Homo sapiens: one gene and its partner. The gene in region 2 interacts genetically with the main gene of each other region. Each region holds a gene or a part of one and is shown on either strand. Other genes may lie near its edges.

Evidence for each region.
Region 1: changes in ENDOD1 (region 2) and SREBF1 together harm fitness more than expected from each alone (negative genetic interaction), as found in Homo sapiens cells (one large-scale study listed by BioGRID).

The regions. Positions count from the first base shown.
Region 1 is NC_000017.11:17,826,829-17,830,645, forward strand, and holds part of SREBF1 (sterol regulatory element-binding protein 1), read right to left. Parts: intron 1-3,817.
Region 2 is NC_000011.10:95,096,146-95,099,962, forward strand, and holds part of ENDOD1 (endonuclease domain-containing 1 protein precursor), read left to right. Parts: intron 1-3,817. UniProt on the Homo sapiens protein: May act as a DNase and a RNase. Plays a role in the modulation of innate immune signaling through the cGAS-STING pathway by interacting with RNF26.

The DNA of each region.
Region 1 (3,817 bases), on a different chromosome or scaffold from region 2:
ATGCGCTTGTAGGGCCCAACGCTGACCAGCACAGAAGCCTACAACCCAAACAAGGCCTTGAACCCCAAACAACCTCCTGGAAGAGGGAGCTCTTCACCTGCCCCCACAGCCTTGTCCACAGAACCCAGATCCATCTCTGACAATATCTACTGTGTGCCAATCCTGTGCCAGGCACTGGGGCCATTATAGATGAGGTGGTCAGGGCAGCCCATCTTAGGAGGTGACATCTGAAAGGAGGACTGAATGATATGAGGGAGTGGGCCGGAAGGGAGGGCAGAAGAAACAGTGTGTGCAAAGGCCCTGCAGTGGGCGTGGGCAGGATAGGAGGAGCGGAGGCAGTGAGGGGGTGGAGGCCAGGACGGCCACCAAGGAGCTGGGATTCCAACTCAGGTTGGTCTGTCATCTGAGCCAAGGACCCCAATTCTCCAGGGAATGGGTGGGAAAGGGATTTGCCAATTGATCCCTGCACTACAGACCACAAAGCTGCACCAACTGTGAAGAAGGGTCAGCCACAGGGGAGGATGTGGCACAGGTGCTCATGGGATTCCAGAGCACACCCTCTCGGCCTGCTAATGGAGGCAGCAGGGTGAGGATGGGTGCCCACCATCCCTCCAGGGAGCTGGGCTGCACCCCACCTGCTGTTCTGCTCCCACCAGGCACTTCCTTGATCCTCCTAACTGGAGTCGGCGGTCCTCGTGTTCTCAGCTGGTCGTGTATCCAGCAGTGGCACAGGCTGCCCTTTGTGCACTCATGGCTGCCCCGGGGGCACAAGTGTGTGCCAGCTCTTCCCGGAATGGGACGCACCCATGGCTGGAGCCCCAGGTGCACCTGGGCGCAGGTCCTCTTGAGGAAACTAAGGCTCAGACGGAGGCCTCGTGCCCAAAGTCCCACAGCTGCCATATGAAGAATCTGGTACACAAACCCCATTCTGCGGCCCCAGAGCCTGCCCTTCAGCCCCAGCCTGTGGGGGACAGCAGTGAGCCCCAACTCCGGCCTGCCTCTGCCCTGACCAGCTATCCTCATTTGTCGCAGTTCAGTGAGTGTGTGCAGAGTGCAAAGACAGAGAGGACAACACGAAGCTCTTTAAGGCTCAGCTCCGGCACTGCCTCCTCCTGGAGGCTTCCTAACCACCACCCCCCCAGACCTATCCACCTGCCCTGCCAAATTAGAGGCTGGGCCTCAGCTGGGGGCCCCTCCTGTCAGGGCCTGAACCAGCTGTGACCCCAGCCTCACCCAGCACAGGGCTGACCACAGCAGGGACCCCAGTCAGAGGCCGTGCAGACTCCAGCCATGGCTTCCTCCACCCTCGTCTGCCTCCACCCCCATCCCCTAACTGGTGTCTCCCTGGGCCTCCCTTTCCCTGCCTGCTTTCTGAACACCACAAGCTATTGAAGGCCAGGCTGTTCCCTCCACCAGGAATGCCCTTTCCACCTGGTGAATTCCTATTCCTCCATCAAAACTTGCTCTGATGCCACCTCCCATTCTTCCCTTGTCTGTGCCCCTCCACATGCCAGCTCCCAACATACTGACCGTCTGACCCTATAAACCTCAGAGCCACGTTTCCTCCTCCCCACTAGGCTCTTCCCGGAGCTACAGGTGTGCGGAATTACCCTCAGCAGCACCTGCGAGATGGCAATTACATGTGATGCTGGTCGGCACCAATTCAGACACCTTGTCCGAGAGGTGGCCCAGGGCACATACTTATCACTGGCAGCTGAAAACAACCCACGGGCCTGATGCAGTGGCAATTCTGGGAGTAGCCCCTGCTGCTGGGCACCTGTTTTCAGTCAAAATGGCAGTGCTAAGGTTAGGCGCAGGGGCTCACACCTGTAATAACAGCACTTTGGGAGGCAAAGGCAGGCAGATCACTTGAGCCCAGGAGTTCAAGACCAGCCTGGGCAATGTAGCAAGGCCCCATCTCTACAAAGTTTTAAAAATAGCTGGGCATGGTGGCATGAGCCTGTAGTCTCCATTACTCTGGAGGCTGAGGTGGGAGGATCCCTTGAACCCGGGAGTTCAACATTGCAGCGAGCTGTGATTGTGCCATGGTATTCCAGCCTGGGTGACAGAGCAAGACCCCGTCTCTAAAAACAAACTGGCTCACGCCTGTAATCCCAACACTTTGGGAGGCTAAGGCAGGCAGATCACGAGGTCAGGAGATCAAAACCATCCTGGCCAACATGGTGAAATCCAGCCTCTACTAAAAATACAAAAATTAGCTGGGCGTGGTGGTATGTGCCTATAGTCCCAGCTGCTTGGGAGGCTGACGCAGGAGAATCATTTGAACCCAGGAGGCGGAGGTTGCAGTGAGCCGAGATTGTACCACTGCACTCCAGCCTGGTGACAGAACGAGACTCCATCTTAAAAAAAAAAAAAAATATATATATATATATATATATATATATATGTATACACACACACACACACACTCACACATACACACACACACACATATATATATATATTTCTCCCTCTTGAGTTGTTTCTCTGCAGCTTGTTTTAAAGCTCATATGAAGGCAGCAAGATGTTTTCGAGCTGCCAGGCTCCAGTCTGGAAAAGATAAAGCCCTTTACAACCTTCCCTACAACGTATTCCCTTTCCTTCTAGCATCACCGGCACTGGGTGATGGTCATTGTCTTTTATGTACTTTTGGTGGCTTTGCTTAGTCCCAAGGCTGTGACCAGAACTTTGAAGGTGCTTTCACTCACATTTCCAAGGCTGCCTTGATGTGTTTTGCACAGAAACCGCCATCTGTGGCCAGATGGCCACTCTGCCCGTCCTCCCCCAGCCAGAAACACTGCTTCCTCAGCAGGTTCTTTTTGTTTGTTTGTTTTGAGACAGGGCCTCACTATGTTGCCCAGGCTGGAGTGTAGTGGTATGATCATGGCTCACTGCAGCCTCAACCTCCTGGGCTCAAGCAATCCTCCAGCTTTAGCCTCAGCCTCCTGAGTAGCTGGGACGACAGGCACACTCCACCATGCCAAGCTAATTTTTTTAGTTTGGGTCTCACAATGTTGCCCAGGCTGGTCTTGAACTCCCAGACTCAAGCGATCCCCCTGCCTCAGCCTCCCAAAGTGCTGGGATTACAGGCGTGAGCCACTGTGCCCAGCATCAATTATCTTCCATGGAAGCCAAGGATAGGGTGCTTGTTCCCCATGGCGGGGGGTGCTCCCCACTGGCCTAGTCAGCCCCATCCTGTCTCTCACCAACTCCAGACCACCACATGGTAGATGCTCAGAACTTGGAACCATAGCCTGGTACATCCTAGAAACTTCCAGCACAGGCTCCTTGGGTAATTGCTGCTAACATTTGTTGAGCTAAACCTATCGCGTGCCAGGTACTGGTTAGGTGCTCTAAATGGTGATTTGTTTGTTTTCTCTAAAACAAACAGGGCCTTGCTATGTTGCCCAGGCTGGTCTTGAACTCCTGGTCTCAAGCAATCCTCCAACCTCAGCCTCTAAAGTCAATAAGATTATAGGCGTGAGCCACTGCATCTGGCTAAATGGTGATAATAATAACACTAACTGGCATTGGTTCAGGGCCTACTATGTGCCATGCACTGCTTAAGCCTTCACTCATCGGATCCCCACAATTCCAAGAAGCTGCTTTTAGTACTGCTCCCTTTACATTGTTAAGAACCTGAAGGTTCTTGGACTTGTCCAAGGTCATACAGTAGGGCTGCTTGTTAAGACCCCTGATCCCAGCCTTCTAGCTGCAGGGAGCACAGGGACCCCAGAGCCTGGCAGGGGCAGCATGCAGAGGCAAGGCCTGCTGGGAGACAGGTGCAGGGACGGGGAGTCAGTTAGGAAAGGAGCTC
Region 2 (3,817 bases):
AAAGTAAATCCTCTTATTTGCCAGTAGCATTTGTTTTCAGTTATCTGGTCTATCTTCTAGAATTACTGTTAGTCAAGAAAGCTTTTTTTTTTTTTTTTTTTTTTTTTCAAATTTCCTCCTTCAAGATGCATGTTATATCTTCTGAATGGTGACTTACCCTTTCATTTTCATGAAACTTAACATCTGTCATAGTAATAATTCATTGCCTGTCGATATATCTATTTGGCCACTGAAAGGAAGGAGAAATGAAAAAGAAACTGACTCATAGGCTGAACCAAGAATAGAAGCACCGTTTAATATTCCAGTCATGCTTCATTGACCTAGTGCTGAACAGAAGTGTGGCTCAATCAAAAGGTCAAACAGAGGGTAGTTTATATTTTTAATCAAAGCTGAAAATACGGGTACATTTTACTTTGTAGAATAAACAGATGGCTGAAATATTATTTGAAAATATAAATGTAATTACATGTTTCAGTTGACTTATACTTTAAGGGCTGATTGGTCTTCAGTTTTTATTGACTTCCAGTTGGCAGGGACACCTAATGCTTTAAGAAAGCCCTGAGCCCTCTGTCAATTCATTTTAGTCAACAAATCTTTATTGAGCATCTGCTATGTGTGAGGCACTATTCTAAGTCCTGGAAAGAGAGCAGTGGTTACAGACAAAAATACCTACTCTCATAGGGTTTATATCTAATAGAGAATATAGATTATAAAATAAATAAATAAAAGACAAGGTGCCAAGCATGGTGGCTCATGCCTGTAATCCCACTACTTTGGGAGGCCAAGGCGGTCTGATCATTTGAGCCTAAGAGTTCGAGACCAGCCTGGGCAACATGGCAAAAACCCATCTCTACAAAAATTAGCGAGGAGTGCTGGCATGCACCTGTAGTCCCAACTACTCATGGAGGCTAAGGTGGGAGGATCATTTGGGCCTGGGAGGTAGAGGCTGTGGTGAGCTGAGATCATGCCACTGCACTCCAGTCTGGGGGACAGAGTAAGACCCTGTTTCAAAAAAAAAAAAAAGGCATATTAGACAGTGATAAGTGTTAAGGAGAAAAAGCAAGGAAGGAGGCTATGAGATATCAAGGAAAAGGTGAAGTTTAAAACAAGGTTTCCATCCAGGGAAGAGATCACTGAGGAGTTGACTTTTGGGTATAGACATGAAAGAAGTAAGAAAGCCAATTATGCAGGCATCTATAGAGGGGGAAAACGTTCTGGGTAAAGGGAATGGTAATTGCAAAGGCCTGGAGGCATGAGTGTGTTGAGGAAGAACTAAGAGGCTGGTTTGGCTAGAGAAGAGTAAATGAGAGTAGCAGGAGATGAGGTCAGAGAAGTGGGGAAGGAGACGGCAGATCATTTAGATTCTTCTGAGCTATTTGTAAAATATTGGGGTTTTACTGTGTGTGAAGTGGGAAGCAATTGTGCAGGGTTCTGAGCAGAGAGCTTCGATGTGATCTGGCTTACATTTAAATAGGACCATTTTGGCTGCTGCATTGAGAATAGACATGTGGTGTTAAGGGCAGAAGCAAAGAAACCAGTTAGGAGGTTTCAGTGATCTGACAAGACAGTAGTATCTTGGATCAAGATGATAGCACTGTATATTCTGGATATATTGTGAAGAAAGAGCTCATAGTCTTTGGAGTGAGAGAAAGGGAAGAGATGACTCCAAGGGTTTGGGCCTGAATAATCAGAAGAATGGAGTTGTCATGAATAAGACAAGGATACAAAAGGAGGGGCTGTTTGGGGGCCATATCAAGAACTCGCTTTTGTTCATAAGAGCAAGAATATAATACTGGTTGAGTATCCCTAATCTGAAATGCTTGGGACCAGAAGTGTTTCAGTTTGAAGATTTTTTTTTGGATTTTGGAATTAGTGGCTGAACCTCCCAAATCTGGAAATCTGAAATCTGAAATGCTTTAATGAGCATTTCCTTTGAATGTCATGTCAGTACTCAAAAAGCTTTGGATTTTGGAACATATTGGATTTTGGATTTTCAGATCTGAGATGCTCAACCTATAGTGGCTACCAGGGGCTGAGGGGTGGGGAAGATGAGGAGCTCTTGTTTAATGGGTATAAAGTTTCAGTTACATGGGATAAATCAGTTCTAGAGATCTGCTGTACAATGTAATGCCTATAGTTGATGATATTGTATTGTGCACTTCAAAATTTGTTAAGAGAGTAGATTTCATATTAAGTTTTCTTAATACGCACACAAAACAAACAAAAGGACACAAGGAAAGTATGGGAGGTGTTGGACATGTCTCCCTCCTTGGTTGTTGTGATTGTATCATGGGTATTTGCATACATCCAAACCCAGCACATTAATTATGTGATGGGTTATTACATATTTATTGCACATTTAATTCATCACATTAAATATGTACAATTCTTTGTATATCAGTTATACTTTGATACAGCTGTAGGAGGAAAAGGTACTCCGTTTTGGGCACTCTGAGTGCGAGATACCTTCAGGTATTCAATTGACCTTCAAGTAAGTACAGTCTAGAGCTCATTGGATGCTTATCATATGGCAGGAGGCACTTTTCTAGTGTTTTTTTTTTCACATGTAATTTCATGTAATCCTCAGCATCGTCAGAAATAGGTACTATTATTATCCTTCTTAGAGGAGGAAACAGGCCCAGAGAGGTTAAACTACTATTGCATTTTTACACAGCTAAGAAGAGGTGGGGCTCGGGTTTGAACCTGAGCTGTCTGACACCAGAGCACACATGGACTGCTTCTGTTGCAAACCTGTTGATGTGTTGGGTGAGCTCCTATTGAATGCTCTTGAATGAAGTTTATCTTTTAAAAGTTCACATGTTCATTTACCAGGATTTTATAGAGGGTGTGTTTCTAGCTCTGGCAGTCACACGCCCATGAATATCAGAGGCTCACCACCTCCAGGTGTACCTTTGTGGCTATAGGAAGGGTGGGGTTATTGCAAGTACTCCATTGGGCCGAGGGTGCTCTGCCCCCTTGTACAGTCTTGTTCTATACTGATCCATCTTGAGCTCTTCCTATTATCCTTATGCAAGCAGACATTTTCCATAAGGCACCAGGTTAGAGCTGGGAAAAATGGATCACCCAAAAACTGTGTTAACTCTGTTGAGCAACAGATTTTGTCCCCTGCATCTCAGTGAGTAGCGGAGATAAGAGGGTAGGGGATAGAGTCTTGCATCTCTGGGCGTATGGAGACATTGCTGCCAGACAGGCTGTTGGATTGGATGTGGTGCATGAGCCTGAGGAGAGCCCATCTCCTGTCTCAATGCCAGCTGTCCCTAGGGGTGGGAAGGAGGTGCCCAGGCCGACTACACCCTCCAGAGCTCCGCTCCTTGAGCAGAGGTGGCAGACCCACACATCCATCATCCAGCCCTAGTCTGTTCAGGAGCTCCTTCTCTGCAGCCAGCTTGGCTCCCAGGAAGGAAGACCAGCAGAACACTTAAACTTAATAACCCAGTAATGCAGTAAGTCCTACTTTGGGACAAGAGGAGGGACTTTGCTCTAACTCAGAACGTATACCTCCTTGAACGTGCCAAAATTCCTTTTTCCTTTATGACTGTTTAGTAAGTTAAAGTCCTTCATCTTTGCAGGTTCTTGCATTTGTCCCTATACCGACTTTATCACAGCTTGGTAAATGTGCCTTCCCTCTATGTTTGTGAGATGGCAGCACTGGTTTCAGGAAATCTGCTTGCTGTTATCTTAGTGTTTATAACTAAGGGATCCAAGTCAACTTTGTTGATTAAATGGACCAGGATGCATGGTTAAATAGGAACCCCATAATGAAATATCTACGGTTGATGTTTCTGAAAGATTGGGC